Linked DNA regions of Homo sapiens. The protein of the gene in region 3 interacts with the protein of the main gene of each other region in a pairwise test. Each region holds a gene or a part of one and is shown on either strand. Other genes may lie near its edges.

Evidence for each region.
Region 1: the proteins of SPRY3 (region 3) and VSNL1 interact in binary tests that used the Homo sapiens proteins (3 or more experiments, as listed by UniProt).
Region 2: the proteins of SPRY3 (region 3) and MAPKBP1 interact in binary tests that used the Homo sapiens proteins (3 or more experiments, as listed by UniProt).

The regions. Positions count from the first base shown.
Region 1 is NC_000002.12:17,645,233-17,655,695, reverse strand, and holds part of VSNL1 (visinin-like protein 1), read right to left. Parts: exon of another isoform or gene 6,287-10,463; coding exon 6,071-6,286; intron 5,916-6,070; coding exon of another isoform or gene 5,686-5,915; intron 500-5,685; coding exon 302-499; 3' UTR 1-301.
Region 2 is NC_000015.10:41,811,168-41,821,630, reverse strand, and holds part of MAPKBP1 (mitogen-activated protein kinase-binding protein 1), read right to left. Parts: intron 10,454-10,463; coding exon 10,396-10,453; intron 9,675-10,395; coding exon 9,504-9,674; intron 9,116-9,503; coding exon 8,978-9,115; intron 8,713-8,977; coding exon 8,530-8,712; intron 8,302-8,529; coding exon of another isoform or gene 8,284-8,301; intron 8,011-8,283; coding exon 7,850-8,010; intron 7,082-7,849; coding exon 6,892-7,081; intron 6,373-6,891; coding exon 6,226-6,372; intron 6,008-6,225; coding exon 5,832-6,007; intron 5,073-5,831; coding exon 4,981-5,072; intron 4,722-4,980; coding exon 4,596-4,721; intron 4,244-4,595; coding exon 4,173-4,243; intron 4,018-4,172; coding exon 3,896-4,017; intron 3,623-3,895; coding exon 3,547-3,622; intron 3,438-3,546; coding exon 3,326-3,437; intron 3,113-3,325; coding exon 3,049-3,112; intron 2,809-3,048; coding exon 2,674-2,808; intron 2,386-2,673; coding exon 2,252-2,385; intron 2,037-2,251; coding exon 1,981-2,036; intron 800-1,980; coding exon 563-799; and 2 more. UniProt on the Homo sapiens protein: Negative regulator of NOD2 function. It down-regulates NOD2-induced processes such as activation of NF-kappa-B signaling, IL8 secretion and antibacterial response. Involved in JNK signaling pathway.
Region 3 is NC_000023.11:155,767,376-155,777,838, reverse strand, and holds part of SPRY3 (protein sprouty homolog 3), read right to left. Parts: intron 10,044-10,463; exon of another isoform or gene 9,878-10,043; 5' UTR 9,703-9,877; intron 8,414-9,702; exon of another isoform or gene 7,977-8,413; intron 4,074-7,976; 5' UTR 3,968-4,073; coding exon 3,101-3,967; 3' UTR 1-3,100. UniProt on the Homo sapiens protein: Inhibits neurite branching, arbor length and neurite complexity. Inhibits EGF-mediated p42/44 ERK signaling. Negatively regulates the MAPK cascade, resulting in a reduction of extracellular matrix protein accumulation.

The DNA.
Region 1 (10,463 bases), on a different chromosome or scaffold from region 3:
TTGCAGCACATTTCTGCCCAGGCTTTGGAGGAAGAGGGATTTTTATGAAATGATATTACACATATCACATTGTGGCAGGTTGTTTGTTTTGTTTTATATATGCTTTTAAAATTCATTAGCAAATGACATTCTCATGCACACGAGTGTTTCAAACACAAGAAGCAAGTCCATTTATAGGTAGTCCAAGCAATATTTGTGTGTGTGTGTGTGTGTGTGTGTGTGTGTGTGTGTGTGTGTGTGAATAGCTGCAGACTGAATGGAACATTGAGACTTTTGTGCAGTCCATAGCATTGACATCAGCTCATTTCTGGATGTCGCACTGCAGAAGTAATACAATGGAAGGGTCGCTCTTTGCAGCTTCTTTGAATTCATCCAGTGTAATCTGGTCATCTTTGTTCTTATCCATCTTGCTGAAAATCTTGTCTACTCGCTGCTCAGGCGTCAGGCCATCCTCATTCATTTTCATCATGATCACAGTGCCTACCATTTTGTAGATAGCCTTGGGGAAAAAAGCATTGTAGGTGATATTACCAGAAACCCAGGAGGACAGAGAGCTCTTCTTGCCTCCCTTTCACCTGACGGGATCCCACCCATCCTCCAAGCCTCAGCTTCCCTTTCCCCAGAGGAGTTTCACTCCTTGTGCTGCAAGTTTCTGTGACAACCCATACCATTTCCCCCAACAGAATACATCTCACCTTTATTAAAATAACTGCTTTGTCTTCCCCACTAAAGAGTATGTTCTATGGAGCTAGGAAGCACGTGCTCCTGTAAGTCCAGGGCTTGGTATGATGCCTGGCACATCACAGGTCTCAATAAATACTGATCAAATGAAAAAGCTTTAGCTGCTGGAGCGTGGGATGTGGGGCAAGGGGCAGTAGGAGGGAGGGCCAGGTGAAGTGTTGAAAGATGAAGCTGGAGAGAGGGAAATGAGAAGCAGATCACCGAGTTTTCCTAGGATAAGATAAAGAATTTAACTTTATTTCAAATAAGTCCTTAAATGCTATTGAATAAGAGATGACATAATCAAATATGGGTGAGCCTTGTGACCAACTGGATATAGAAGAATTTGGGGTGGCTTCCAGGTTTTTGGCTGGAGGAAGTGGTTAGAAAGGGTGGCTCAATGGTGAGATTAGAAATAATGGATTAGGAATAGGTTCAGGGAGGAACATGATGGGCTCAGTTTTAAACATTCTGCATCTAGGTGCAGGAAACAGTCAAAAAGCACTAGCCTTGGGGATTTAGGAAAAGAAGAATTGTGGGGCCAACTGATTAGAAACTTAGAATCTAGTAAGACAACCAAGCCAGTTGTACCATTAAAATTGAACTCTGCAAGAAGTTAGTTTAGGGAGAGTTGTGGAGCAGGGACTCTGTTTATAAGTTAAAGAATAGAGTGAGAAGATTTCAATTATCCAGACCAACTAACTGTATACAATTAATTCTTGATATGAAATTTCCAAAGTATAAATTATTTCCTTTCTTAGAAAAGTGCTTTAAAAATAAATGCCCATCTATACAAAGACTTGCATGAGAACATTCATAGCAGTATTATTAATAGCCAAAATGTGGAAATGACACAAGTGCTCATCAACTGTAAACAAATAGGATACAGCTATACGGTAAAAAAATATATACTATTTTAGCAACAAAAGAGAATGAATATGCTACAGCATGGATAAATCTCAAAAATATAAAGAAGCCAGACATGTAAGGCCACATGTTATGTGATTCCATTTGTGTCAAATGCCCAGAAAGGGAGCCAAATCCATGGAGACACAGTGATGTGTTGGTTGCCTGAGCCTGGGGTGGGAGCGGGCCTTTGGGCATGAGGGATCTAACTGGGGGAATAAAAATGTTTTAAATTTACATTATGGTGATGGTTGCATATCTCTGTACACTTAGTAAAAATCATTTAATTTGTACACTTAACATGGGTGAATTTATGGTCTGTAAGTTATAACTCATAAAGTTGTTTTTAGAAATGCCAATCAGAGCAAACCACTAACTAGAAAGTGCTTTATTTAACAAGTTAAAATGTCCACTGAGATAAAATATTTTGTGCGTATTTACTTTTGTAGCTAGATGGTATTGATGTATCATGGAACACTTTAAGAAAGTTGTCTCTAAAAGAGGCAGACTTTCCGAAATTTCATTTTGTGGATAATTGGTAGACAAGGTCCTGATTAGTCTAGTAGCCAGAGTGGTGCACAAAGGAAAAGCACGGAATGTGTACTGTCTGGAATTTAAAAAGAGACAAATGGCCCGTACACATGTAAGCTGCCACTCTCACCCTGGCCTTTAAAAGGCGAAATCAAAAGCCCTTACATGAGGCAGTGGGTATGAAGGCAGCAAAACAAGTGCACTATTAATAAAGTCAGGGTAATAAGAAATGTAAACACAAGAAGTCCCTCCTGGACCTCAGGAAGCAACTCTGAAAATGGCAGGATCTCATTAATCGTATCCATGACACAGCCCTACAATTGGGACTGTGAACACGACAACCAAGAAGGGCCGTTTCAGATGCAGACTTTTACATATCACAAAGGCCGGGCATGCCAGACTCGGAACTCCGTGTGAAACTGCCCCTGTGGTCCCCAGCCCTGATGGACCTGTACTGACTTGCCTTTCACTGTAAACTAGAAAACTGGATAAAAATAAAAGAAATAGCTGTTTTCAGACTTTACAACTGACAGTGCAAGACTGTAATTCCTAAGAGGTGGGAAACAAAGTAGATGAACCCTATGATCTCAGCCCAGAGTCCTTCCTGGACCGCAGCACAAGGAGAAGGGTCCCAAGCAGGGCTGACTCACCAACTGGAGGAGACAACAATTGGAGGAGGAAGGTGAAGATAGCCAGAAATTTCGGGGCAGAGGACCAGAGAGGGAGCCAGGCAGAAAGAAAGCCTCAGAAATCTGCCTAGGAGGACTCCTCAATGTTTATCTGGAAACTAGGCTGCACACAGAGGATAAAAGTTCACAAAGAAGTTTCTGAACAATAAGCTGAACAACTCTTGGTGCTCACACAGGCTTGCAGAGCATTCTAGTTCTTAATGCAAAGAGCTTGCTAAATACCTTGGCATTCAGGAAGCCTGTTGTCCATTCTTCTTCTTTTTAAAGCAAAGCTTCTGGCAAGAGTTTTCTGCAGTCACTGTCTTTACTTCTTCCTCTCCCATTCTCCTGGGCTGCTCTATTTAGGATTTTGCCACCAACTCCTCTGAAACTATTCTCAGCTGGTTCACCTATGGCCTCCAGGTTTCCAATTCCAATTGTCAGTGATTACTTTTCTCCTTTTACTTCTTTTATCAATAGCATTTGACATGATTGCACATTCCATTCCTTCCCCACAAAACAGTGTGTTTCCCTTCCAGGACTTCTCACTTTTCCTTTTTTACTTTGACCTTTCTGGCAATTCTTTCTCCATCTCCTTTACTGATTGTGCCTCATGTTCCTCACCTCTAAACATCAGGTTGCCCCAGGACCTCAGTCCTCTGGAAACCTCTTTTCTATTTATATTCTCTGTCTAGTTATACTCTGATATGTCCTCTTTCACTTAAATACCTGAATAAGTATCACAACACATGGGGCTGGTTCCCACCAGCCAGAGTAGAGAAACCTCACTAAATGTATGAGAAAATCAGTAAGAACCCCAAAATGGTCACAAATTGGGCACTGGGCTAACTTACTACAGAAAACCTACTCTCCATCTGCTCTAAAAGCTTAAAATTATAAAACTGCCTCGAAAAGATCACGCTAATTTACATATAACTTACCTGCCTGTCAAAACTAATCTCAGCACTCTATAAATGAAGACAACAAAATACAGACACTCTAATGCAACATTCATAATGTCCAGGAACCAATAAAAATTATTACACGTGTCACGAAGCAGGAAAATGTGACCCATAATCAGGTGAGAAATCAATCCATAAAAGCTCTGAATAGAAGAAAGGAAGAGCTAGAAGTGATGGGGAGAAACGTGGAAGAACTAAGAGAAAGAAAAGCAGCCGCTGACAGCCAGGAAATGGCCCGGACTGCCCACCGGGCCTTGGTGCTGCCGGGAGCTGGCCCAGCCCTCACAGTCAGGTCTCACACCAAACATAACCAATGTCACAAAATGCCAGTGACCATGATGGAGCAAGGCAAAAACAAGACCACTCTGTCATTAAGTCTGAACACAGACACAAAACACCAAGCATCCCTGCTTCCTGCTATGGTGAGTGACCACTGCTTCTTCACCCGTTAAGAGCATTGCATTGGTCTGTGTGCCCTCCTCCTAGGTATCTAATCATAGAAGTGTCCCCACTCCCTGACAGTAACCAATCCACAGTAAACCTCTGCTTCTCCGAACCCTCCCCAAATCACCCTCCCAAAGTCCAGATCCTAGAAGTCCTTTCTAACACCCTCCTGCTGAATTGCCCCAAGATTCCCTCACTGCAAGCAGTAATAAAGTCAACTTGTGTAAGTGTGGGTATGTCCTTGGGGACTTTGGCTGAAGGGCATTGACAAGGATTAGAGAGAAAAGTTTTGGAGAGGAAGGGTTTTGGTGGCCAATGAGGGGAAATGACAAGAAGTCAAAGAGGAGAAAAAACTTGGAAAAACCTACTCTGTAGGGAGCTTATAGAGAGACCTTGGAGGGAGCCAAGTTAAGTGTGGAAGATGGACAAAAGATTAAAGAGTGAGAAAGATGAGAAAATCAAGCCACATGTTCAGAATTATTGTGCTGTATCTTTTCTGATAACCTGCTGGAAAAAATATATATTCAATTGAATGAAGGGAACACAAGTAAAGAACTAAGATGTTAGTTTGCTGGGTATATTTGAAAGGGAGTGGGCATTGAAGATAGAAGGGGAGAAGCCAACGGAGAAGAAGAGACTGAAGATGTGGAATGAGAGGGTGTGCAAGTGAACGAGGCCAGCTTCCCAGGCAGGGAGTTGATGGGTGACTTCTCTCTGAGGCTGGGAGGAGAGTGAGAGTCCTGAGGGGAACTTGGGGCTTTGGCTTCTGTTTCTTGCAATCATCCCATTTTCTTGTGGGGATCCACCCTGCCTGATCTCAGCTCTTGGTGTCTGGATGGGGCATCCCCCCAGCTCCAGGATGGAGCACCTGGCTCTACCTTCAGCAAGTGATACCTTTCTCTCCTTGGTCAGAGTGGCTGGTGCAGGGGTGGGAACCCATGCTAAGACAGTCAATCAAAGGAAAGCTACCGAACCATGCATCTGCTATTGCATGCCTGCCAGGCTCCAGGCTGGGTCTGGGTTCTGGGCATGCAGCCGTGAGGGCAGAGCCTCCTCAGAGAGCTTGCATTCTGCCATATATTCCACTCAACAAGTTAATCTGGGGCAGGGACAGATGTTGGGACAAAACCCCTCTTGGTAAGGGTTAGATTGCTTTGGTGTGAGGGTGGAGTGGGCATATTTGGGAAGGTATGCAGGAAGGAAGACCTCTCTGGGAGATGGGATAAGACCAGAGATGGGAGCAAAGTGAGGGAGGAGCCCCCAGAGGCCAGGGGAGGGCATGCTGGGCAGAGAGAGAGGAAGTGGAAGGCCCTGAAGTGGAACCGGGCATTAGAAGAAAACCAAGAAGACCTTCACATTGGGAATGCAGTACGCAGTGGGTGGCGTGGCAGAGGAATCCTGGGTTACTCACAAACACAATGGGCAAAGCCTGCTTGCTGTGGAATGACCAGAACCTGGAAGGATGTCCCGGGAGCCCCTGACAGCCTCGGGTCCCCACTAGGCGCAGCTGGAGTGAGGCAGAGCAGAGATACACCAAGTGCCAGAGAAACAGCCCATGACATCCTGTGTGCACAGTAAGACAGGTTCGTGGGAGATCCAGTAGTGAGTGAATGGCAGATGACAATGCCACCGTCACGACAGTACGGGCCCCATGGCTTGGTTCTGGGACCTCCCCAGCACTGTGCTGCAGCGGGGACAGAAGCAGGAGAAGTCCAGGCGTGGTGTGCAGCTGGCAGGGCTCGAGCAGAGAGAGAAGAAGCCACTAAGGCCTGCACCTAGGAGGCTGCCGTGGGGTCTCCTTCTGTGCCCACCACCCGCCAACCACACCCCGGGCCTCACCTCGATGATCTCCAGCATCTCCACTCGGGTGATCTTGCCATCACCATCCAGGTCATACATATTGAAGGCCCAGTTCAGCTTCTGCTCAAAGCTGCCCCTGGAGGTGATGGACAGAGCGCAGATGAACTCTCGGAAGTCAATGGTGCCGTCCCCATTCTTGTCGAAGGTTCGGAAGGCATGCTGGGCAAACTTGGAGGCGTCTCCATAAGGAAAGAACTGCAAAGGAGAACACGCGCAGTCAGGTGTCGGGAGGGGATGGAATCGGGGCGACGAGGTAGGTTCCTAATGACGGCATCACAGGTGCTCCTGGGCGTTGTCGGAGCCTCACCCATTGGAGAGCAGTTTGGCCTGACTGTCAAGGGCAAGGGCAGGCATTAGGGGAGGCTTTCTCACAGCAGGTGCTCAGGTACAGGCATCTCATTGTTTCCTGTGGGTGAGGCTGGTGACATGTGGCTTTCAGTTGATGGGGCTTGGAATCGGTCAACAAGCACCACCTGATGCTAGTGTTGCAGCATCTCAGCTCACTCCCCCCAGGAACAGGACTGAGGCAGACAGCAGTTTCTCTCCCCACACAGGTGGTGCTACACGAACTTCAATGTTCCTCTAGATATGAGAATCTGGCTTCATCGCTGCCCAGTAGGGCCAGAGGGAGGGTGCCCAGACCTGGTTTCTCCTGCCACCAGCCCTCGTCCTGGGCCCACACTTATCCCCTCCCTGGGTGAGGTTCCAGTTTCTAACTTCTTTTTGCAGGGACTTTTCTTTTGCAGAACAGACATTTAAAACTCATTAAAAATAGAACATGACTGGGCTTATTTTTGAGAGACATAAAGAGGTTTCTTCACAGAGCCAACTGTCACCAGGGGTGTGTGGGAGGCAGAGAATGGACACAAGGAGGAAAGGGAAGCATAGACCACAAGGAGGGAAGGCCATGGGGAATCAGTAGGTGGTGGCCTCAGTCCCCTTGGACATAAGCCTAGGCCAGTCACAAACAGCAGGTAGTTCTGATAATTAACAAGGAAGAACTGCAAAGCCCCAAATACAACCAAAAACAAACCATGTGCTATTTTAAAGCAGAGAAGTTACGTATGTATTTCTGGATGAATAAATCTGGGTTCTGGGCTCTATAGGCAAGCACTACAAGGTCTATAGAAGATTACTGAGGTTGCTCATTGATATCCCTTTTCCTTCGTAAGTTTTGCACCTGCTAAGTGGACCAGGTGAGCAGCCTTCATACAGATGGCCTCTTTGCCCACTCTGGGCTATCTACCTCGAGGAGCCCTCGGTCCGTCTTTCTCACTGTGCATCCTGACCTGGGTCCTGCAGAGCTCTGCTGCCCACTCCTCCTGCACCTAGAAGCACATTGGAAGGTAGAAAATTTCCCTCCAGACATAAGATATGCTTTAACACAGAAGGATTCTATACATGGGGCCCAGGGAACAGCCAAGCATTCCAGGAGAAGGAAAGTACCCATTACTTATATTTTGGTAGTACCCATTGCTAGGCACAATGATCTGTTCCAGAGACTATTCCTATATAACAAATCACCCCAAAAGCTAGTGGCTTAAAATGACAACAATCATTTTATTATCTCACGAAATAAACATTTGAGACCCATTTCTTTTTTTCATCAAACATATCTTTTCCTGGTTACAAAGGACAATGTTCTCTTATGTTCCCTCATTCCCTAAACATATCTTTCACTTCTCTTATCCTTCATTTTTCATTATTCGTCAGAATTCACTGCGTTCTTATTCATGTCGGGCCTCGTCTTGGGTGCTATGGACTCAGAGAGCAATACCTCGAGGTCTCTGTGTTCCGAGACTGCACAGTTAATGGGGGGACTTTACTCAAAATTGACTTGGTCATGTTACTTGATAAGAACTAGAACAGAGGAGAGGGCAAAGTATTACTAAAGCTCAGTAAATGAGCTGTTAGTTTCAAGGAGGGAGTTGTAGAGGGAAGGACTTTCCTTCTTCTTTGAACAGCTCAGCATGACCCCAGCCCCTCACCCCCCAATGCTACTTAGGTGCTTGGTACCTGAGGACAGGCTGCCAGGCGCTGAGTTTTGAACTAAACAATGTTGAATCTGAAAACTTCTAAATAGGCAAGTTTGCTCCTCCTGTGCCTTATGCATGAGTGGTCCTGGTCCCTTTCTAGAGGGTACTTTGGCTGATGTGTTCATCTGCCTTGTGATTAGGGGCCTGGGTGGGGCTGGCACCTGTGAACTGACTTGGAGTGGAGCAGAGCGAGCCCCTGGACAGGTTCCCAAGTCCCCTTAGTGCTGTTTACCCGCCAGCATTTCTATGTGCAGTTGGCATGAGACCAGTGGGCACGAAACCTCCATTCGTGTAGGTTTCTGGCACTGTAATGCTTTAACTATCTTATGTCTCACAGCCTACTTTTAGGTTAAGGGATAGTTGACAGTTTTATCTAAAAATAACTGGGCACCTTGGGTCAGTATATTAAAAATTAATTTAGGTCTAAAAAACCTTGAGAGAAAAATCAATTGTAAATTTTGAGCTATAAAAGTTACATGTGTCTTGCAGAAGGTCTATATACTGACTTTTACAACCAACATGTTTACTTTAGAACTGAGTGTGTGCTCAAGAGCCTTCAAATTTCTGGAGGGGTTGTTTCCTTTAGGAAATTTATCCTATCATGTTCTGAGTGCTTTGAGTTTTTCTAACTAGGGACATGCTCCTTATTTTGACAAAATAATTCAACTCTAGATGGATCATCACAGAGAAATGAAGCTGCATTCCCTTCAATTTCTTAGGAAGAATTCAGGGTCTTGAACTCAGATTTACTTCTCCTGGAGGACAACAGGGCCTGAAAAGCACAGTATTTTTCTTTTTTTGCGTACTCTTGTTCAATTTCTTTTTAACTCAATGTATTTTGTTTCAATTCTTGTATTAAATTTTGACATGGAAGTAATATTCGATGGCAGTAATAATCTATAAATAATATGACAGATACAAAGAACTTTGAGGTTGAAAAATTAAAAATGTATATACACACTCATATGTATATGTATATGTGTGTGTGTATGTGTATTAGTGTTCTCTCACTTAATTTTCATAACAAAATCTGACATTGTACTTTCCATTTTGTGGATGAGGAAGTGGAAGCCTAGAAAGGTCAAAGGCATTTGCCTAAGATTCCTGGCTGTCTGCAGCAGAGGCTGGATTTGAATGCAAATCTGTCTGACCGTTTCTGCCACACCTTGAGATTTATCTTAATCAAGTGTTAGCCGAGGAAATAAACTTAACTCCACATTTGATGAAGCAACCAAATGTGTTGCATTATGTAATTCTTAGCATCCATTGCCTCTGAAGCTTGAAATTCTCTGCTCTGAGTATTTTCGCCACCTTCTGGCAGCACATATGTACTGCAAGGAAATTACTGAGATTCTAACTGAGTTATTTTCTGACTCATTCTTTAACTCAACATTGAGAGCAGCTGCTATGTGTCAAGGACAGTGTTAGGTGCTGGCAATAAAATAGAAGAAAGACATAGAGCATTAAGGAGTGGGGGAAAATAGGCATTAATCAAACCACCATATAAAGAAGTATAAAATTTTACTGTGATAAATTACAAGTGTATGGAGCTGCAAACAAAAGTAATGGACATGATATTGTCAGTTTGAAGCTTTAAAATATTCGCATGTGGTCCTTTCCCCCCATCCTAATATACAGGCTGCTGACAATTCATTGTTCTTCATCATAGCCTAGAGTTTCAGAGTCTGAGACTTCTTGGGATTACACAGACCTTGACTGCTCCCGGTTGTACTCCATACCCTGTCCCTGAACCGAACAACCTGCAGAAGAAAACCCCAGGAAACACTTGAGGTCTTTTCTTTCCCCAGGCAGACAACAGGAGTCTTTGCATGGTTTAACCAGCTTCCTCCTGGCCAGGGCAGGAGCTTTTTCTACAGACAGTGGGCCCCACTCTGCATTTCTTTCTTTTCAGTAATCTATCTAGTTGTGAATATCAAAATGTTTGTTTCCTCTAAGAGGTGGTGCATGAGAACCAGACACATTAGCCTCTGGGCCTCCAGGGCCCCACCCAGCGTGGGCACAGAAAGGCTGAGTGATGATCTACAAACACTGTGCCTCTCTCCAGTGACACATTTCCTCTGCACCCCTATCCCAGCCCTCCCCAGCACCATTGCTGCCTGGATAGCTTATCCTTCCAGAGAAAATATTGCAGCATTTCCCACATGAATCTCTCCCCTCCAAAGATCCCTGGTTCACTGCCTCAATGTGATGGAGGAGGCAGCTCCCCAAGAAGTTCTCCAGCCCAACCTTTGGGTGGGGGTGGGGTGGGCACAAGCAAGGCCTTGGCCAGGACTCACCCCTGCCCATGCAACAGCTGATGTGCTGTGTCAGGAGGG
Region 2 (10,463 bases), on a different chromosome or scaffold from region 3:
GGATAGGAACAAGGTTGGGAAGCCTGAGGCCGAGGGGGCTTTTCATTCTGGGAACACACAAAGGGATGTTAACAGAGCAGAGGTGACAGATGAGGCAGTGGTAGCTGGGGGGTAAGCCCTGAGTATCCTGGGGGCCAACCCTCCCCTTGGAGAAGAGGTGGAGGTGAGTAAGGATGCGGTGTGCACTCATTCAAGGGGAAGCTGAAGGACAGACATCGAGAAGCCAGGCTGGGCTCCAGTTGCTGATGTGAGCTTCTGGATGAACTATATTAGCACTCTGGGCTGCCAACCTCCAGCTACCACTTAATACCAAGAGTCCTCCAAGAAACCCAGCCCAGGGCAAAGGCCACTTTTGCCTCTCTACCCCAACCCCTCCCCTGCCTATCCTGATGACCAAACCATACAGCCCAGCCACCCCCATCCTGGCTTTGCAGTTCAGGTTACCCATGTGCCACAGGGGCAGAGCAAGCATAGCTGGACCAGTGCTCAGGTCCCAGCTGGTGGCAAAGGCTGCCTAAGGCCCCTTGGAACTCTCTAGAGAGCTGGGAGAAAGCAGGCTCACCTGGCTAGTGAGTGAAGTCTCAAGGGCCTCCTGCCCATGCTTCCTGGGACCAGATGGGATGATGGCCAGCGAGTCCTGGCTAGGGTCCTGCAGGCTTGGGGCCAGTGTTTCCAGCTGCCGCAGATCCAGCATGGATCTAACGCTCAGTTCCACACCTGGCTGAACCCAGCGCCCTCTTCTTCTGGGTCCTGGGTTGGCTGCAGGAGCTGGGTCCAGGAACCCCACGGACTCCTGTGCCTGGTGGGAGGTAGGGGGTGGGGGAGGAGTAACAACAACCACACAGTAAGATCAACAAATATCCACATATCCCTTACTATGTGCCTGGCACACTACACATACTAGCTTACTTCATCCTCACAGCAACCTTTTGAAATGGGCACTAGTATAATCCTTGTTTTACAGATGAGGAGACTGAAGCACAGGGGGCTTAAGTGAGCAGTCTGCGTCCCACAGACAGTAAGTGGCCTGCAGATTAGTCTGGCTCCAGAGTTCATGCTCTTAGCTGCATTCCGCATCCTCTGGCACAGGAACCCCTAGTCTCAGCCTTCACCTGGTATCATGGATGCCTCAGAGCTGGGGGTCTCTAAAAGTCTCCTACTCTGAGGACAGCCCCAGCAGCAACCACTTACTACCAAGAGTCCCCCAAGAAATCCAGCCCAGGGCAAAGGCCACTTCTGCCTGTCTACCCCAACCACTCCTTTTGCCTCTCTACCCCAATCACTCCAATAGCTGGGGGCCCCAAAGTCCCCTCACAGCACCAAGGACAAACCTATAGCCCAGGCCTGAGACCCCTGGCCCGGTCAGGGTGCTCCAGAGACACCACAGCATCATCACTCTGTGAAACTGTTGCTGACAACGGAAGGTACTGGTGCTTGGGAACTTGCTCTGAACACCTTGATCCCCCTTTGGCCACCCCAGGGCAGTCGCTGAGTTATGGGTCCCCTCATGGCCTTTTCCCTCTAACTATTCTGGAAGTTCTCCGCTTACCTCCTAACCGGGATCTTTAGAACTGTTTCTCCAGATCTCCGCTCTTTGGATCCTTGATTTCCTGCATTTTAGTTCTAACTATCTGGCTTAGGGGTCCTTTGTCCTCTCCACCTTGAGCTCTTCTCTGATGATATTTACTTCCAGGCACCAGGCAGCTGAACAAGTGCCCCACCTCCCCAGTGCTGACTAACCCTGTGCTCCATCCACCCCAACTGGTCCACAGGAAGGAAATACCTGGGCTTTCTTCACCCCCGCACCCAGGACCAGCCCAGCTGCTTCAACTTCCCCGACAAGGCCTTCCTTGGACACACGAGTGCAGCATGTGGGCAGACCCCATGCCCCAGTACCCTACCAGGCCCAGAGAGCCCTGTTCTCACAGCTCCCTTTGCCTCCTCTAACCTTGGAAGAACATTTTAACAATGGCGACTCACCCGACTCATCTCCCAGTGGGACAGGCTTCGGGGCAAAGCTGGGCTGGGGACCGAGGCTAGACAGAAACAGGCAGTCAGAGGAAGTGTCTCCTGCCCCCCCCCCGCCACCCAACCCTGGAGCCCTGGCCCCATCAGCCCATACCCTGTGTGGCCACAGTGATGCCTCAGTTTCCTCAGCTCACACTGCTCTCACCCCACAGTCTCAGAAAAACCATATCTAGCCATTATACCAACTAGGGCCTGTCTGCCCCCACACCCAACTGCCACAGACCCAGTGCCTTCTTGGTACTCTTGGCAAGGACGGGCAGTGCTGGAAGTTCTTCTTCAGTCCCCTCATCTTCTCCCTCCTTGTCACTGTCTGATGAGAGAGCCGGTCCAGGAGACAGCATTGATGGGGCCTGGTGCCTGAGTCCGAGACAAGGAAGGGCATGGGGAGAGGAGACTCAATAGGGGGAGAGGAGGCTCAGTGGGGGAAGAAGGAAGAGGAGACTCAATGAGGGGAAGATGAGACTCAATAGGGGGAGAGGAGACTCAACAGGGGGAAGAGGCTGACATCATGGATCCTTGTGTGAGAGGTAAGGTCTTGGGAGACAGAGTTGCTGAATGGCAGGCCCAAAGCATGGAGGAAGTGCAGTGAGGTCCCAGCAAGCCATCTGCACACCCACCCATCACTTGCCCACATTCTGTTCTCACCGGTTGGGTCCAGAAGCCCTTTGGGGAGAGGATGGTCCTTGCTGCTTGCCGCCCCGCTGACGCTGGCGCAACTCGGCCAGACGCTGCCTCATGCTGATGGTCATCTCAGAGCTCAGGCGCCACACAAATATGCAGCTGGGGTAAAGCCACACAGTTGGCTGAAGGAGGGGCAGGTAGAATGGCTAGCGCCATTCGTTCCCCTTATCCATGGATGGCAAGGAGACCAGAGCCACCCTCCACTTCAGGTCAAGCACAGCCAAAAGCTATCCCTGTTAACCCCACTTCCCAGAGACATCACTGAAATGGAGAGAGGGGAGGGCAGGGTGCTGTGGCAGAGTAAGAATCTGCCTCTCAGGGAAGCTGGCTTCTGCTCACCTGTCCCCAGACACAGAGATGAGATGTTTACAATCATTACTAAATTTCATGCCAGTGACAATCTCTGTGAAGAACAAAGAATACGGTCTATAAGCCACCTTAAATTCCCAACCAAGTCCTCTCCATCCCAACAGTGGACACGGGGGTTGGCTGCAGGGTAGGGATAGGTAGCTCTGCGGGTCCCAAGAAACTAATAGAAGAGTGAAGTTCCAGGGGTGGAACTCACTCAGGTTTACGCAGGTATCAGCTTCTACTCGGGGATTCAGGCTACACTCACCTGAGTGGCCAAACATGGTGGCCACGCACTCGCCTGAGGAGAAGTCAAAAATGGAGAGATTCTTGTCAGAACAGCTGGTGGCAATGTAGATCCCTGAGGGGTCTGTCTGCACCTGAGGAGTAGCAGGGTGTGCAGCTGGAGGACATGGGAAGTACCAGTCCCTCCCACCCAGCACCACTCTGTCCCCGAGCCCCTGTCCAGTACCCCCTCTGGGTCCTTACCTTAATGAGTGTGCCGTCCTCACCCTGTGACCCTTTAAACAGCTTCTTCTGCTTTCCACTGCTGATGTTAAATATCCTGTAAGAAACATAGTCTCTTTCTCATGAGGAGGCGGTGAAGGTGGAACACGCCTGGGGGATGGAAATGCCAGCTTTCACTCCCAGTCTACACTCTCTGGGAGCTACCCCCAGCAGCAAACAGGCTACCACCTCTTGGGTGAAGCAAAGTACTGTAGGCTCAAGGGGGTACAAAGTCCTGTACAGAACGACAGATGTGGGAACTTAGCTGCACAGAGCTGACCCCGTAGGGAGATGAAGGAATGTGGGCAGAGTCTGAGGAGGGGACGCCCACCGAATATTTCGGTCCTGGCAGCCGATAGCCGTGTACTTCCAGCTGGGCTCCACATCCATGTCATAGAGGGTCGTCTTCCGCACCACGTGGTGTGTCCGTGTGAACTGCACTCCATCTCCAGACTGCAGGGGTGGAGCATGTGGGCAGGCCCACACCCAAATGCCTCACCAGGCCCCAAGAGCCCTACTTGCGCCTCCCTTCACCTCTTGTAACCTTAGGCAGGGAATGGCAGACCCCGCCCTGTCCCGCCCCTCTCAGGAAAGCCCAGCGCCCTCACCTTCTGCGCAGTGCGGAAGTAGATGCTCTTGTCTGCTCCACAGCTGATCATGCGGACTTGCCCATCACTGGCTATGAAGGAGGGAAGCCCAGCTGTTCCCACTGTTCTCACCACATGGGAGCAGCCTGCCTCCCACCTTCCCTCCATGAGATCCCCCATCAAGCTACTCTACATGCCAGGGAAAACCAACTAAATTAAACCTGGAAACCCAGGTTTTCCTGTCTCCTTATCCTCAGTCCAACCTGGTTGGCTCAAGTCCCAGCACTGAGAGTCTCTGTTCCACCTATCTTCCCAACCAGCTCCAGGCCTCCCAGCTGCTGTCCAACACTCCCCCACAATGGGCAGACCCTTCTCATGGAGGTGGGAGGCAGATGGCAGCAGGGGTGAGAGTGGCAGGATGTGTCTCATTCACCCTGCCCGCACCTGCAAACTTAACAGCAGTGATGGAGGATGAGTGTTCGTCCAGCGTCTGCTGTAGGCTGTACTCCCGCCCGGCATCCAGCACATGGATCAGCCGGTCCCGGCTCGCCGATGCTAGCAGTTTCAGACCTGGGGATGAAAGAACTCCATCAGCCCATGAGTGCCCTGAACAGCCCTTATCTGGGCCTGGCAAAGAGCCCCAAGGGAACTGAGCCCCATATCCCCAAGCCATGTGAACCATGGAGCAAGGACAGAGCTGTCTTCCTCTAAACCAGCAAAGACACCAATGATCCAAAGATTACCGACCCCACGTCCAAGAGCCGGGACAGATATAAGTGGCACCGGCAGGACTGGAGGAGCCCTGTGCCATTCCGGGCATTCTCCTAACCTGTGTCTGGCTTAGAATACTCCAGGCACAGAATCTCAGAGTCATGGGCCTCCACCTTCAGCATCTCACTCAGGGACTGAAGTTCGTGCACCCTGCAAAGATGAGGAGAGGTGGGAAGAGGCCATGGCCAGGCCGCAGGAAGGACTCACGCCCCCTCCTCTGCTACATTTTCTCCTCCTTTTTCCTTTTTTTGAACTTTTAGGCTTAGAGAAAAGTTGCTGAAAGAACAGAGAGCGTCTATATTTCCCTTACCCAGCTTTCCCTAATGTGAACATCTTACATAACGATAGTGCAATTATCAAAACTAGGAAATTTATGTTGGTATAATACTATTAATTAGAGACCTTATTCAAATTTCACCAGTTTTCCTACTATGTCCTTTTTCTTGACTCTAGATCCTATCCAGAATCCAAATTGCATTTAGTTACTTCTCCTTAGACTTCTGTGGTCTGTAACAGTTCTCTGGTCTTTCCTTACTTTTCATGATCTTGACGTTTTTGAAGAGTATTGATCAGTTACTCTGTGGTATGTACCTCAATGTGAGTTTGTCGGATGTTTTCTCACGCCTATATTGAGTTTATGCATTTTTGGTAAGAATACCACAGAAACATTGTCACATCCTTCTTAGTACATCCTATCATGGGCTTAATGATGTTGATATGAGGATGTTAACCTTGATCACTTGGTGAAGATGATTTCTGCTAGGTTTACTCATTGTGAAGTTATTATCTTTGCCTTGTAAATAAGTATCTTGTTGCCCAATCTTTTTGAGCCAAACCCTCCCTAAAGTTCTAAATACCCAACTCTGCACCATGAGAGGCAGTCAGTACCCACCCAGGGCCTGGCATTACCTAAGTGTGCCCATACGGTCCCCTGATGCTAGATGCTGTCCATTGGGGCTGACACACACCGAGCGGATGCCCACGCGGGGATCCAACAGGGATGCATCAGCTTTGTCTCCTCCAGGCAGCTCTGTGTCCAGCAGGGCCTGGGTGTTCCCATCCACATAGATGATTTTAATGAGGTCCTAGTGGAACAGGTTAGAAAAGGTGGATGAGGCAGGCCTGACCAGTACAGCTGCAAGGGGCAAGAAAGCTGAGCAAAACAAACCCTTGGACCACAGAGCACAGCCAAATGAAGGCTGGAAGGCCAAGGCCTAGGGACCAGTTCCCAGTAACAAGGTGCAATAGCTGTGGGGATGGGGGCACTGAGGGTGAAGCGGGGCCCCACAGCCTCAGGGCTCACACTGCTGAGGATGTTTCGGTGGAGGGTGGAGCCATGCACCCCGGAGCTCTCTGTGTTCCACAGGCGGATGGTGTTGTCTGAGGAGCAGGTAATAAAGGAACTGGGGGGCAGGCAGGCCTGGTTACTATCCTTCACCTCGGGGTAGACCTGAAGAGGCCGAGGGAACACAATCAGACCTCCATTCGGGAGCAGTCCTCTGCCTACCCAAGGAGATGGAAGGGAATGGGACGAAAAAGGGAATGGTGGCCAGGACTTAGCCCAGTGCCTGTCACAGGCCATACATAACTGGTATATACCCTTCAACATGACCAAGGGGAAGCACCCACTATATATCAGGCACTCTTCTATGTCTCCCACTTACATTATTTCATTTTATTCTTAGAACAATTAGGTGAATCAAGTACACCATTTTACAGGTGAGGAAACTGAGGCTTGGTCAAATTCAATAACTTGTCCAAGATGACCGAGGCAAAACTAAGGATGGGGCACACTGGGGAAGCCTGTAACATTCAAACTCAGTCCCCAGGATCTATCCCAGGGAAGTCACTGGAGAAACAGGGAGGCAGCAGGAATCTAAGATTATACTTGGGGATCCCTATTTTCTGTCCTCAAAATGGTATCCCAGCCAACCTGGCCAGTCTCCAGCCAGCCAGCCAGCCCACATACCTCCACACTCCAGACGCAGGAAGAATGATACAGAGCCGAGTACACCTTGCCCACTTTCTTGGGGTCCCTCACATCCCAAACATAAATGCTATGATCGTTGTACACACAAGACAGCCACTGATTAGTAGGATCAAAGGTCAAGGCAATGGTGTCTGGATACCTGGCATTCGCCACTCCAGAGAAGAGGCGACTGTAGGGAGAGGACAGGGCACACTGGTCAGACTGAAGGGAATGAAAAGAGAAGCCAATCCACAATGGAAGGAGCAGTGTGTGAGGAGCCCTCCCTGGACCTGCAGGTTTGGAAGTAGTTGCTTGAGAGAAGAAAGGAGCCCCTACTAGCCATCAGCAGGAACCTGACCCAGCACTAGCTGCTGGGCCATGGTGTTCGGATGAACACAGCTTCACAGAACACCAACGTTAGACAAGGTACTTCTATGGCTGTGATGGGGCAAAACAAAAACAAGACTACTCTGTGCACAGATAAAAACAAGATCACCATACAAACCACAACGAACCATGACAATGACCAAACACCGCCTTTCCCATCTACATGACTGCTGGCGGCTTCTTGACCAAATACAGCTTTAGCCCCATACCTTTCCTTCACCTCTTAGATAAATTAACAAGATGTTCCACTGTAGAATTGCCCCTAGTTCCGGACAGCATCCAACCAGAATACTTCAATCCCTTGAACGATTCCTAAAATCACCCAACGCAAACCCAAATCCCATATGTCCCTCCTAACACCCACTTACTGAGACTCTCCACAGTTCTCCATGGGGTGGGGTCTCCTTGGTTGCAACAAGTACCAATAAACCCAAATTCTTCTGTCTAAAGAGGTGTTCCCAATAATCTTTGGGGCATCAATACACTCTTCACCTGCTCCCTGAGGCACTGACAAGAAAGACTGGGCAGGGGTAAGGCTACAAATGGAGGAAGGGGGGCCCACATAGCTCACCTGGCCTCGGTGACGCTAGCAATGTCTGTCCCCAGAGCATGGGGTCGGGGCAAGGTGCTAAGGAAGTGCAGGTTAGAGGGGTTGAAAAGGCGCACGGTGCCATCAGCACAGCCACAGAAGATGTAGTCTTGGCTCACAGAGATGCAGTGGGCCACTGTGGTCTGTGGGCAGAGTGGCTCAGCTCAGCAAGGCCACCTGCCCACTCAGTCTTCTCTCCTCCCCACCCATCAACAGCCACCTGCCAAGAGGAGGGACCGGCCAAGGCAGGGGCAAGGGAAAAGCCGCCCAGCTGCCCTGTTCTGAGCCCCTCAGCCCTGTCCAGCCAGGGATTAGGAACCGAGGATTCTTCTAGGCACCAGAGGATCCAGTAGGAAAAGCCCAGTGAAGAGAAAGAAATAGCATGAGAAAGAGAGGAAGGTGCAGGCACCACTTACTGTGAAGCTGTCTATGTTCTGAGCGGAAGAGGAAAGCAGGGGAAAGAGACAGAAAGAGCAGAGAGGAGGCAGTTATACAGATCACCAAGGGCTGGAAATGGGCCAAGCTCTAGCTCCCCCAAGCTTCGTTCTCCTGGGATCTCCCGTATGCACAAGGGACCAGCCCCTAGTCTGAAGCCCTGGGCACTAGTTCTCCCCTGAGCTGAGACATGAGCAGACCCTACCCCTGGGGACGGAGGTACTTACCCTCAGCTCCACCCACTTGTCCAAAAGCCTTCGATCACTGAACTCGCACAGCAGCCCTGAGGACGTGATGCAGAAGGTACTGTCCGCCTTTTTTCCTCTGCCACAGGCCACATCAGTGAATAGGTTGTTCCGTAGCTCTCCCAGCAGCCCTGAGCGGCCCAGCAAGGGCACAGTGGCATTCACCTGTGGAGGCACACCACTGTTACACCCCCATCCACCCCAGAGCCTGCCCCTGGAAACTGGGCCCTAGGAGAGTACAGGGGACGCCTCCAGCACCTCCTTGCTCTTTGGGCCTACTCCTCAGCCCAGACAGCATCTGGCTCATCCAAAACTTCTGCATGACTGCTGGGAATGCAGAGAGAGGCCCAAGTGGGGCAGAGTCTCCTGGGTTGGGCTGGGCAGGCCCTGCCAGGGGCCTTGGTGGCTACTCCCAGCTTCAGCACCTCACCTTTGAGGTCTTGCTGTCATCGAGATACCAGAATTTGATGTGTCGGTTGCCTGCAGTGACAAAGTAGCTGCAATCCTCAGAGAAGGACACTGCTGTCACCCGACTGGACACCTTGTTGGAGGCCACCACAATGTTTTTCTGGAGGGGATGCCAAAGGAAGAATCAAGGCTCTGTCTCTTGGAGCTAAGAAGACAGTGACTCAGAGAATGGAGGAGAATTAGAATTTGTACTTGACAAAGTGTTTCTTTCCAGAATTTACTGGCCAGAAAAAGAGGGGTAGGGAAATAATCCCTTTCTAGAGGAGCTGAAAAGATTCGTTTCCTGCAGAAGTCTTTGAAGGCATAAAGCTAGCCCCTTCAACCAACATGCTTGGCCACACAGTTGCTCTTTTCTGCTTCAAATAACTTTCTAGAATGAGAATGGTTCAGTGGGGTGGAATGGAGCAGTGCAGGTCAGCAGTCTCTTGCCTCCCCAGCTGACACTTGACCCCTGTGAGGCTGCCAGGCCACCCCACCCAGCCACTCACCTTCCAGGCCCACACGTTGACGATCATGTCATGCTGGTAGCCCACAGAGACAATGTACTTGGCGCTAGGAGAGAAGGCCACACAAGCCACACCATACTTGTGCTCCTGCAGCTCGGCCACCTGGCTGTGCTCTGCCACGTCCCAAACCCGCACGGCAGGCATGTGCCCACTCTGCAGGGAGGCAAGAACTGGAAGTGAGTTCTTGACTTCTCCACAGGCATACAGCCCCACTTCGTCTTCCAGAGCGGGGCCCTCGCCTCCTCAGCTACTAGATACCATCACTTCCCCAGCCAAAAGTCAGGGCAGGGTATAGAGGAAATATGATAAAGATCTGAGGGCAACAGTGATTACCAGGAAGAAAGTGGCCCCGGATTTTAGTCAGCATCTCTGGGTGGCCGTCTGTACTTCAGGTTGTTCAAAGCTCCCTGAATGGTTCTGATGGGCAGCCGGCATTGAGAGCCACTACCACTCAGGTCTATTTCTGCCCCTAGTAAGACTACGCCGCCAGGACAGAAGCGTTCCTCCTGAGCCCAGCAGGGGGCCCCCGGGGGTAAGGAATAGTTAAGGCAGTGGTTTCCAAAGCACGCTTCCTTCACCAGCAGGATCAGCACTCTCTGGGAACTTGTTACAAATGCACATTTCAGACTCCCATCCCAGACCTACAGAATCAGAAACTCTGAGGACCAGGCTAGTGATGTGTGCTTTCACAAGCCCTCCAAGTGATTCTGATGTACACTAAAGCTTGAGAACCACTATTTTAAGGTATAGCGAAAACCAGGATTTGGTGTCTGTTTCAGAAGCCAAAGTGACAGCAGGCCTAGGACCGCAGCTCTCTGCGGAGGCCAGGACACCTGCCCTCTTTACAGTACTGCCAGCCCTCTTCCTCACTCACCTCTCCAGTGACCAAGTACTTGCCATCAGGGGAGAAGGCAAGGGCAGTGATGGTTTTCCTGCAAGAGA
Region 3 (10,463 bases):
GTTAGGGGCTAACAGATGATTTAACTGCAAAAAAATGCTAAGCAGGAAACACCCTCTAAATATTCCTGTTTATACAGGACATGACACAAAGTAGAAAAATAATGAAAACAGAGCCTCCCTGCAGGATTTAGAGTTCTTTCGTATATATTTTAAATATACATGTGCAATACATTAAAATATATAGAGATGTGTGAATATATATAATCACAGAAGGGATACATACGCACACTCACTCACACGTCCATGCGCATATCCCAACAGGACCCATCTATACGTAAAGCAGATGCAGTCCATATCAGGCCAACTTGGACACAAGTGAAAGCCCTGACTCAACAGCAGATTGCAGATTGCAACTGTATTTGAGTAACCCTTCAATTTCTTCTACCAAGTGTAAGGCCATTTAGAAACACACTGAGAAAGGCTCCTCTGGGTATATGGCAGAACCCAGGGCCCCTCTGGCAGTGCACAATTTGCCTGAGTTAGGACTGCAAGATTGGGATATCAAGGAGCTATCAAGGAGGAGGGGCTCGTGTTATTTTGGGGCCTGAAACTAATAAGCAAACATCCATAGAATAATTTAGCTCCAGGAACAATGCACTAGTGTCAGAGAATCCTTAGATAACTGAGCTCTAAGCACATTTCAGGCAGAAGCAGAGAAGTGTGTGTTGCTACTCATCACCATCCAGCTTGACCCAGAGAACTGGGCAGAGCTTTTCAGGGTAGATAAGTGTAAAGTACAATCAAGCAGACTTGTAAGATTAAAAAGTTACTTAAAATTGAAGGATCTGAAAGCAACATAAGAGGTTACAGGTATTGGTTTGGGTTTATAAATGTTCCAAGAAGCCTAACCTTATATATGGCACCATTTGCAGCAATATCATTAACATTATTAATAATCATCATAACATATTTATATATACAAAAATAGAGCAAAGCAATTCTAGAAGAGGAGGTGTAAGTGAAGGTGTGGGGCTCTGTGCAGCCCAAATGTCAGTACACTTCAGGAAGATTCAGAACCAACAAAAAGTGAGTGGCACATATTTCTGTAATATGTATCCAACAAAGGGACATGGAGGTCCCCTCTTCCCCCCGTGTACTACTATACACTTCTCCCCACTTCTCCACCCTGCAACACACATCCATGCACACTCTAGAAGAGATGATCTATAAAGTTAGAGTCTGGAGGTCTTAAACTAAGTTGGAGCACCTTGATTTCAAGCAAGTGCCCTCAATCTCTGAATTCGTCAGTGAATTTTGGATTCACTTATAGAGGGAAACTGTATAATTCTTGTGTCTTTTAGCAGCAGTCTTTAGGAGCCTGCCATCACCACTGCAGCTTTTTCCCATTGAAGGGGGTTCACAGCACAGGCTCTCTGTACTTTTTAAGAGAGAAGTCAGTTCTCTACATTATACATCTTTCATCTCAGTTTTTCACTGTTGCTGAAATTTAAGTTCTCAGGCAGCTGCCATTGCAGACAAAGCCAGGAGCAAGCACAGTGTGTGCAGCAAAGAGTAGATGCAATGGCGAAGATACAGCTTGGTTAGGGCTTCTTTAAGCTTTTCTTTTCCACACTTGAGCTTCTACAAGGTGACAGAGCCAAAGGTGATGTCCACTGGGGGCAGCCTCAACACCTGATAGTTAATTAGCTACCCACCATGCACTGGAGAAAGACCACCACACTAACTAGGCATGGTTCCTGAAAAGTAATTGAATGGGAATGGCTTTCTGTCACTGTTAATAGAGCCCTAGGAAAAAGTCCCATGACTCAATGTGGTACAGGGGTAAGAATACTGAACTAGGAGTCAGAAGGCCTATATTCCAGTCTCAATTCTGCTGTTAACTCAGTGTGCGGCCTTGGGGGCAAGTCCCTTCCTACCTCCAGGCCTCAGTTTTCCCATCTGTAAAATAAGGGCATTGAACTAGATTAATAGTTAAGATTCCTTCCAGCTCTAACGTTTTATGACTTTTTATGTCCATTATTAACGCCTGAGCCATGCAGTCTCAGGGAAGTTAGCTTCTAAGAGAGAACATACCTCTGTATCCTTTGCTTTGTTCATTTAGCTATAAAGCACGTCTGCCTTTGGCACTTGGGTCAGACATACAAAGTTATGAGCATCCTGATTTACTATCCTACTCAGCATGCTAGTGGAATCTGTCAGCACTATAAGTTGATTATTGAGAAAGGGAGAAAAACTCCAACTAGTTAAACCTGGAAATATAAGATAACTTCGCCTCATGCGCTCACGAACAGGTGAGAGTGGTTGTGAGCACACACACACATCGGGATACACACTATTGCTAGTGATCAGTTCATTACAGTAATCCATTTCCCTTAATAAAAATTAGTAAATAGTATAGCATAGCAAAGTTTGGCATCTAAGGAAACATCTATGGAAAAACAGCACTTTTGGACATGTTAGAGAAAAAGGGACAGGTAGAGAGAGACAAATATAGATCAAATGAGATAGAAATACAGGCAGAGAAAGGATCAGTCTGAAAAAGAAGGAGGGGAGAAGGAGAAAGGGAGGAAGAAAGAGAAAAAGTAAAAGCAGACAGGGTGAGAATGAAGGGGAAAGGAATACAGAACAGAATAATGAAAGAGGAGAGAGGAATAAAGAAGAGAAGGGCAGTAACAGGGAGAAGGGGTCGTATTCCCTGGAAGGTTGAACGCTGTTCCACATGTACCTGTGAAAACCATCTTAGAAGAAAGCTTCCAAAGGCACAGCAGAAAACAGAGTGACGATCAGAGCCTGCATCGAGAGGTATTACATTGGGGAGCCCCTAAACCTCCACGTTGCTGGCCCTGTCAGTCCTCAGTGTTCAAACCTCATACCCATATATCACCTGAATTTGCCATGACAACCATAAAGGCTGAGCTGGCAGGGTGTAAAGACTGAAGAGGAGTGGGATAGATACTGTGAGAAAGAACAAGGCATCCTGCACCAGGATGTACTTGGTCATTCCCCTGACACTGCAGGAACAAAAGAGAGGCCCTAACTTTGGCTAGTTTATCACTCCTCCCCCTCTCCAAAGATGAGGCCTATGCTTTGCTGTTGGGGACTCGAAGGAGAAAAGCTCTGGATCCACCTTGTTGGAAGGTCATACAGACTTTTCCTGGGCCTTGGGGAAGGGTGCACTACCAGAAGAGATCTTTCTGCACACAGTGTTGGTGTGCCTCTTGCAGCGGCAGCCTGGTCGCCGGAGGCTATCATAGCCCTGTTGGCACAGATGGAGGCATCCACGGGTAGGCAGGTAGCAGCACAGGCAGGGTAGGAAGAGGGAGATGAGGCTCATGGCTGCCCAGCGGACAAAGCAAGAACTAGGCCCACAAGAGCAGGGCTCATCAGCACAGTTGTCTTCATCATCAGTGGAGCAGTGGTAGAAGAGGCCCTTGACACAGCAGAGACAAGTGCCATAATCGAGGAGGCTCTCAGCAGAGCAAAGGCAGCGCTGGTTGCACAGCCAGCAGGAGGGGAGAGGGCGAGCTGCTGTGCAGGGGACGCACTTGCAGCGCCCACATTCCTCACAGATGAAGAGGTGCTCACTAGGGTGCCCTGCAGATTGCTCAGCTTCTCCCTTCAGAGCACCATCAGCCTTTGGGTGGACCCCTGCTCCAGGTTGGGTTCGGATGATGGATTGGCCTGAAGGTGAGGGTGTAATGCTGGCCAAGAGCCTTTGATCAGAGGCAGTGGTGCTATGGGACATTGAGCTGGCAATGCTAGATTGGCTCAGATGCTGAGGCAAGGGCTGCAGTTGATGGCACTGGCTGAGACTGCGGGGGAGAGAAGTAGGCATGGTAGCCAGAGACCAATCAGACTTGTGGGTTTGCACAATAAGGGAAGGGCTGGAGAGGGCCTGTTTACAGGGGGCTGGAGGCCGTTCCACGTAGTCATTGCTAGCATGAGTAGAGCGCAGCTGTTCAATAGGCAGAATTTGTTGAAAATCATCTGTCACCGCAGCATCCATTTTGCCTTGATTTTTTAGCTCTGAGTGGTTTTAAGTCAGGGTGGCACTTATGGTGATAAAGAGGAGCCCTTGTAGTTACATGGATTTCAGGGCACATGAGAAAATCCTAGGAGAGAAGGCATAAAAACAGTAAATGAGAACACACAGGCATAAGTACTTTGCAAGAAACCAACAAAGCTCAGGCCCTATCACCACCACTACCTTCAATTACTTTACAGTAATCTTCATGCTACACCTTTATTCTGTAATTAACCTCACTTACTTCTTTATAGGCAAATCTCATCATCCCCTCCAGACTATAAAGAAGTTTGGGAACAAATATCAGATAGTTGATTCTTTTTGTATTCCATCAAATGCCTAGTTTCACAGGAGCAGCTAGCTCATTCAGGTATTTGCTAGCAGAGACATCCAAGCCTTGGGCATCAGAATTCTAATACAAATGGAACCTAATATTAACTGCAAAGGCTATTTTCTGAAGCAATGCTGAAGGAAAAGAGAAAGCCTCAAAAGTCTCCCATGAGAAGTTGCTCATATATATATATATATATATATATATATATATATCCAATCAAAATTATCTTTTCAGTGTGAATTTGTGATAAGCAGAAATAAACAGATAAGAAAGGACATTACTTGATTCAGTGAATACAGGCAAGCAAGGAGAATGCAATAAAGGCAGAGATACAGCAAACACACAGAAGGTAGGAATTAAGCTGTCTGCAGTGTAGTAGGAAAAAAAAAGGCTTCCCAAGAGTATAAGGAAACCAAGACTAATCATCTTGCAGTTCTCTTCACCTTACTGGCTGCTTTAACTTACTAAGGAAGTGATTCTTTTTAAATGGAATGGAGGCTCCAGAATCAAACTTTTGTACACGTGGGAGTAATACTGGGGATCAAGGAACTATAGAAGACAAGTCCTGAATTATTTCAAAAATCATCTGTAATTATACCTATTACTATCCTAAGTCACCTCCATATTGATGAGACTTACCAAGCAGAATCTGCTTGGACTTCTTTTCTCTATCACTACCTTACACAATAAACTGACTTTCTTAAAGGAAAGTGATATTCTTATACCATATTTAAGCTAAGTTGAATGTCTAGAAAGCATATGCTTGCATTTCCATTGTACTACAGTCAGGAAGAGGTGGTTGGTCATTCCCTGAAGGATTTTACCAAGCCTAGAACTGATAATGATGACCATGGGGAAAATACTGTACAAATAGCAGACTGCTGTATTGCACCACCTAGAAGACTGAAGAGTCAAAAAGGTGTACATGAAGAAACCTAAACACAAATCCAGGAAACATCCTGGAGGCATTAGGACGTAGCAAAACACTAGCATGAATAAAGTATATATTTGAGATCCATCAGATTTCAGGCCTTCTCAAAATAGATCAATTACTCACACTACTGTATGTGATGGATAGCTTGAATGAGTAATAGAAATGAACAAGTGAGAGAGGATGGTGCTTGATTACGTTTCCATAAGCAAGCAAACATGACACTGAAATGGGCCCAAAGCTCAATAACAGGAAAAACAAGGATGCAGTTCATAAAGGACTCAGTGGCTAATAATATGACCAGACTCAGTTGACTTTTGAGGCTATATCCTCATGCAAACCTGATAAGCTGAATTTACATCTGCTCATTACTTGAAAAGATTTAATTTGGTTACAAATAACCTTTTTGGCATATCACATCAAAGAACCAGTCTGACAAAAATTTCACTTTTTAACTAGTTGTTTTGGTGTTAAATAAATGCAGCATAAGAGAATGCAAATAAATATTATGGAAACTCTCAGACTCAAATATTTATGTCACTTTTGTCAAATCACTTGCTTTCTTTGGGCCTCAGTTTCACTATCTATGTGAAACTGAAGGATATGTGATGTGAACAAGGTGATCTTGAAGGACCTTGAGCCATTATGGTCTGTATTTCTTTCTATAACTACACAATTTTATAAAATATTTCTTTTCATCCGTATCTTCTACATCTTCAAGTCCTTGAGGGTAAGGTGGGCAATGTGCCCTTACTTATTGGGGCATTCAAAAGCAAAATGTATGTTTCCTTTATTTACTTGCACTCAAAGGCTCATGCAACCTGCCACCTCTACCTTTGCTGTATCTTTATAGATTCATAGTCTCAGCATTGGAAAGGAACTGGCAGCTTTCATGTAGACACCCAAATAAAAAAGGACACATTGTTCATTTGGCTTGGAGGGTATGTAGATGTAGGAACTTGGGACTGGGAGGAGTCTTTTGACAAATTTATGAGAAATAGATTTATGTCCCATTGATCGGCTAAAGAATATGTGGAGCCCTGCAAGTCCTTTGTACTGTAAGAACAATAATATACATGCTGAATGCAGTTTAGACTAATTGATTTCCCAAAGGAAACTAGATTCAAAACATATTGAAAATTCCAGGAAGCAATAATTTAAAGGAAGTTATACAAGGTCTCAAAGTTACAGGAGATAAACAGGTGAGATTCCAAAGACAGGATTCTAGGGATGTCACTAGGAACCTCAGGGACATGCCCAGAAGGTTGAAAGCTAATCTGGGAGGAATCTAGGTCATAATATAAATGACTCAGAAACAATAATGAGAATTATGTTCAAAGGGGATCCTGTCTGGGGAGCAGAAGGGTACATGGTGTTTAGGTTGAAAAGCTGTATTTCAATATTGATTCGATTTCTGCAAGACTGATAAATTGAGATGCTTGGTTGGATGATTAAAAGAAGCTGTGGGCATTATTTCAGTCTGAAATAATGATGCACTGTCTTGCCTACAAGTAAGGGAACTGACAGGATGAACTTAGAAGGTTTCTTCCTGCTCTGTAGAATCTTTTATTCAAATGGACTCTGGGATCTAATGTGGGAGACCTGCAGTAAGTGGACAGTAGGACCTGAATAAAATCAGAGTGTTGAGTAGGATTTAAGGATTGAATGACAATAAATTGTTTGCCATTCTGGACATGCTGAATCTGATCTGGCTAACAGGATGAACTGAAATAGATACTGTACAGGAAGGTAAGAGGGAAAAATATGTTGAGAAAGGAACAGGCAAGACACTGCTGTAGCACATAGGCTAGATGAAAAAGTACCACTACGTGAATGTTTATGATTCAGAAATCCACCCACTAAAGAGCCATTCATTGTGAGCAGCAACAGTTAAGAAACTGTGCAGTTGGCCAATTCCATAGTCTATCAAATGAGAGAGAGAGAGAGAGAGAGAGAGAGAATGTACACATCACATATTATTAAATAAGAGCAAAGGTGATTACAGGTCTTGGCTGCACATTGATGGGATCTAGTGATTTTTGTCACGTAGTGCCTCTGCAGTAATGAATGATGCATTGTAAACCCACTCCCATCACAGTCTCTCTGGCCAGGTGCTCATAGCTTTCTAAACAGTTTTTCTGTAGCCCTGAATTTGCCATGTTCAACCTGAAAAAAATTTCTTTTCTTATGCCAATTTAGGGACTAGAAAGCTAAGCCCATTCAAGAAATGCTAATGTTTGTTAATGAAAGAAAATGTATTTTCTCCCTGGAACCTAAAATCTGCCATGTTGAGAATAAAGTTGAAAACTTTCCTATCTAAAGCCCTTCTATGCTAACACCGCAAGACAGTTCTGATTTCTATGGTAAATCCTTTCCGATACAGTATGACTCAACGTTGATTTCAAAGAAGAGTGGAGTGAGGAAGAGGAGATCCTGGCTCTTGTTTTCTCCCAGTCTCACGGGTTCAATGCTGTTTTGTACCCTACTGTGTAACGGCTCTTAGGTGTGTTGCTTTTTTCTATGCTCTGCTGTTATATACACTCCTACTCAGAATAACTGAAAGCAAACATAGGGGGAATTTCTGCTTTGGCTTTATATGTTTTCTTAGTTCTACTGTTCCAAAGTCTGCTCTCTAAAAATCCCTCTCTGTGCAAAAAGCATTTGCATCTCTATCAAAGCACTCCCCCCTTACAAATACCAAGTTGTATATAGTTTACATTACTAACCTCTCTGCCACTGACTGGGCCTCCCTCCTACCGCATACATCTTGTTGGAGCTGCCAGGTTCTCACCACATTTAACTCTTAACTTGTCACTTTGCTACCCTAGTCCTATTCATTACTTTAATGGTTTCATTAAGACTCATAGCAGTTTATTTCAAACCAGGGAGTCTTGCAGTTTTAAGACCTTGAATGTTAAAAGATATAGGTCTTTTAGTGATGAATGATACAGGGAAAATTTGTAATACCAAATGAATTCACATCTAATCCTGAGGAAAATTGTAAGAAGAAGCTGGTTGTTCATCTAAGAAGTAGGATTTTTTTTTTAAAAACTCAAATCCTTTTATATGACACAAGAAATTTAAGGTCTAGTCCTAATGGTAGCTCTACTTTGCTGCGTGGCTGTAGGCAAATGACCTCCGTTCTGGTCCTCAGTTTCTTCATCTGCAAAATAAAAGGAGGGTTTTTAAAGGCCTTTCTTGTCCAGATGCTCTAAATTTTATGTTGGGTTTGTTGGTTGCATTTCTCTGTTTCAAAAGTCTTTAAGGAAGAATTAGTGTCCTTTCCTTTAGGTTCTTTACTTCCTCACTACTCAACTCCTCAACTCTTAATAAATATCTTCAAATCTAAGTCACTCAGATCACTATCTAGACTGTTTCACAGCTAGAGAGACCTAAAAACAGAACACAAAGAGACAAATATATAGAATGTTATAGTAATGTCTTTGTATATGTTTGTTTAGAGGCAAGGAGAGCAAGACCAATATTTCATTGTGGATAAACGGCTAGCCTGTGCCTTATTTGTATTTATGAATGCAGCCGACTTTTTGGGAACATGATTTAACACCTGGTATATCCAAATTCATGTGATAACACATCATGATACAGTGAGGTTTTAATATTACCAGAAAAGCAACAATAGTTTCCATTTCAAAATAGATTTTCTGCTTAAGAGTTCAAGGTCTGTTTTCTGTTCATCCAACTTGGTTTGCAGCATGCAGAGGTGAAGAATGATAATTATAATTAGCTTCATGGAAGTGAGTGTGCAGTAAACCATTGCCCTAGGTCTTATCAAATGCCTATTGGCTAACTAGACGTGCTCACAGGTTCTCACTTTTGACAGAATCTCCATATGCCACACAGAGACATGTGCACACGTACCCAGGCACGGATACAGAGATTTCTAAATCACTGCTCTGACTCAATGTAAGTGGGGGGTTCTGCCGTGTCAGCTTGCGCCATGTCTACCCAGGGCAAGGTGATGTGATGAAATCTGAACGATGCACAGCCCAGACTTGTGAGCCAATAGCAGAGGCTAGCCCCATGCTGACAGGATGCCCGCTGGGCAGCCAGACTGGCCTTAGCACGGGCTCTCTCTCTGTCCTCAGCTTGGGTGGTTAGGCTGCGTTTTGAGGGGTTTAGGCAAGTACCAAAATGCATTTAAAGGTTAACAGGCTAGAAATTAAATTGACATTCGCCTAGAAAAATATTATTTTGAAGTCCTATTTGGATTTACACATTTCCAATGTGGATAGTTTTCTGCGAGAGCCGATTTATTTAAATATAATTTAAAGGGTTTTCATTTTATTTTATCCATGCGCTTGCGCGCGCGCGCCCAAGCGCGCGGCACACACACGCACACAGAGACAGCACAGGATGGCTGGAATGAATGGCAATCTGTGCATTGCATAGAAAGAATTCTGGGTTTTTAAAGAGCTAATTTCTATGGCTTACCTTGAGGAAATGGTTTATCCATGCTGAGAAAAGCAGAAGAACTAATGCCCCATCTGGCTCAAAGGATCTCTTCTCCTCAGTCTTTAGGTTTCTCCACCTCTCTTCGGAAAGTCTGAATGAAAACTCCTTCACTGGCAGGCAGTGGAGCCAGAAACAGAGATAGTTCTGTCTTGTTCTTTGACACAGCAGAGAAAACACAAAACAAAACAAAACAAAACAAAACAAAACAAAAAAACGGGGGAGGGGGCGAGTCAAACCTGTAGTGGCATATACTTTGTATAGATTTTACAGGCAGATCTAAATCTTGATGGACGTATTTCCCAAAGAAAGCTCAGCAGGGTAAGTTGTTCACCTCCTCCTCTTTCTCCTCCTCCTCCTCTCTCTCCTCCTCCTCCTCTCTCTCCTCCTCCTCCTCTTTCTCCTCCTCCTCTTCTTTCTCCTCCTCCTCCGCCTCTTTCTCCTCCCCCTTCTCCTCCTCCTCCTGTTTCTCTTCCCCCTCCCCCTCCAGTATTTTCCTTCCCCTCCTCTTGCCCTCCCCTTTCCCTCCTCCCCTTCTTCCTCCTTTACCTCCTCCCCCTCCTCTTTCGCCTCCGCCTCCGCCTCCACCTTGGTCTCCCTCTCCTCCAATCTGACAGATGAACCGAAGCAGCAGAAACTGCAGTTGTAGACACAGGGTATCTCAACGGAGCAATAGATACCGCCAGTGTGTGATTATTTATATGGCTCAGGGTGTGTTGGTATATAATCTGCAGTGGGGGCAG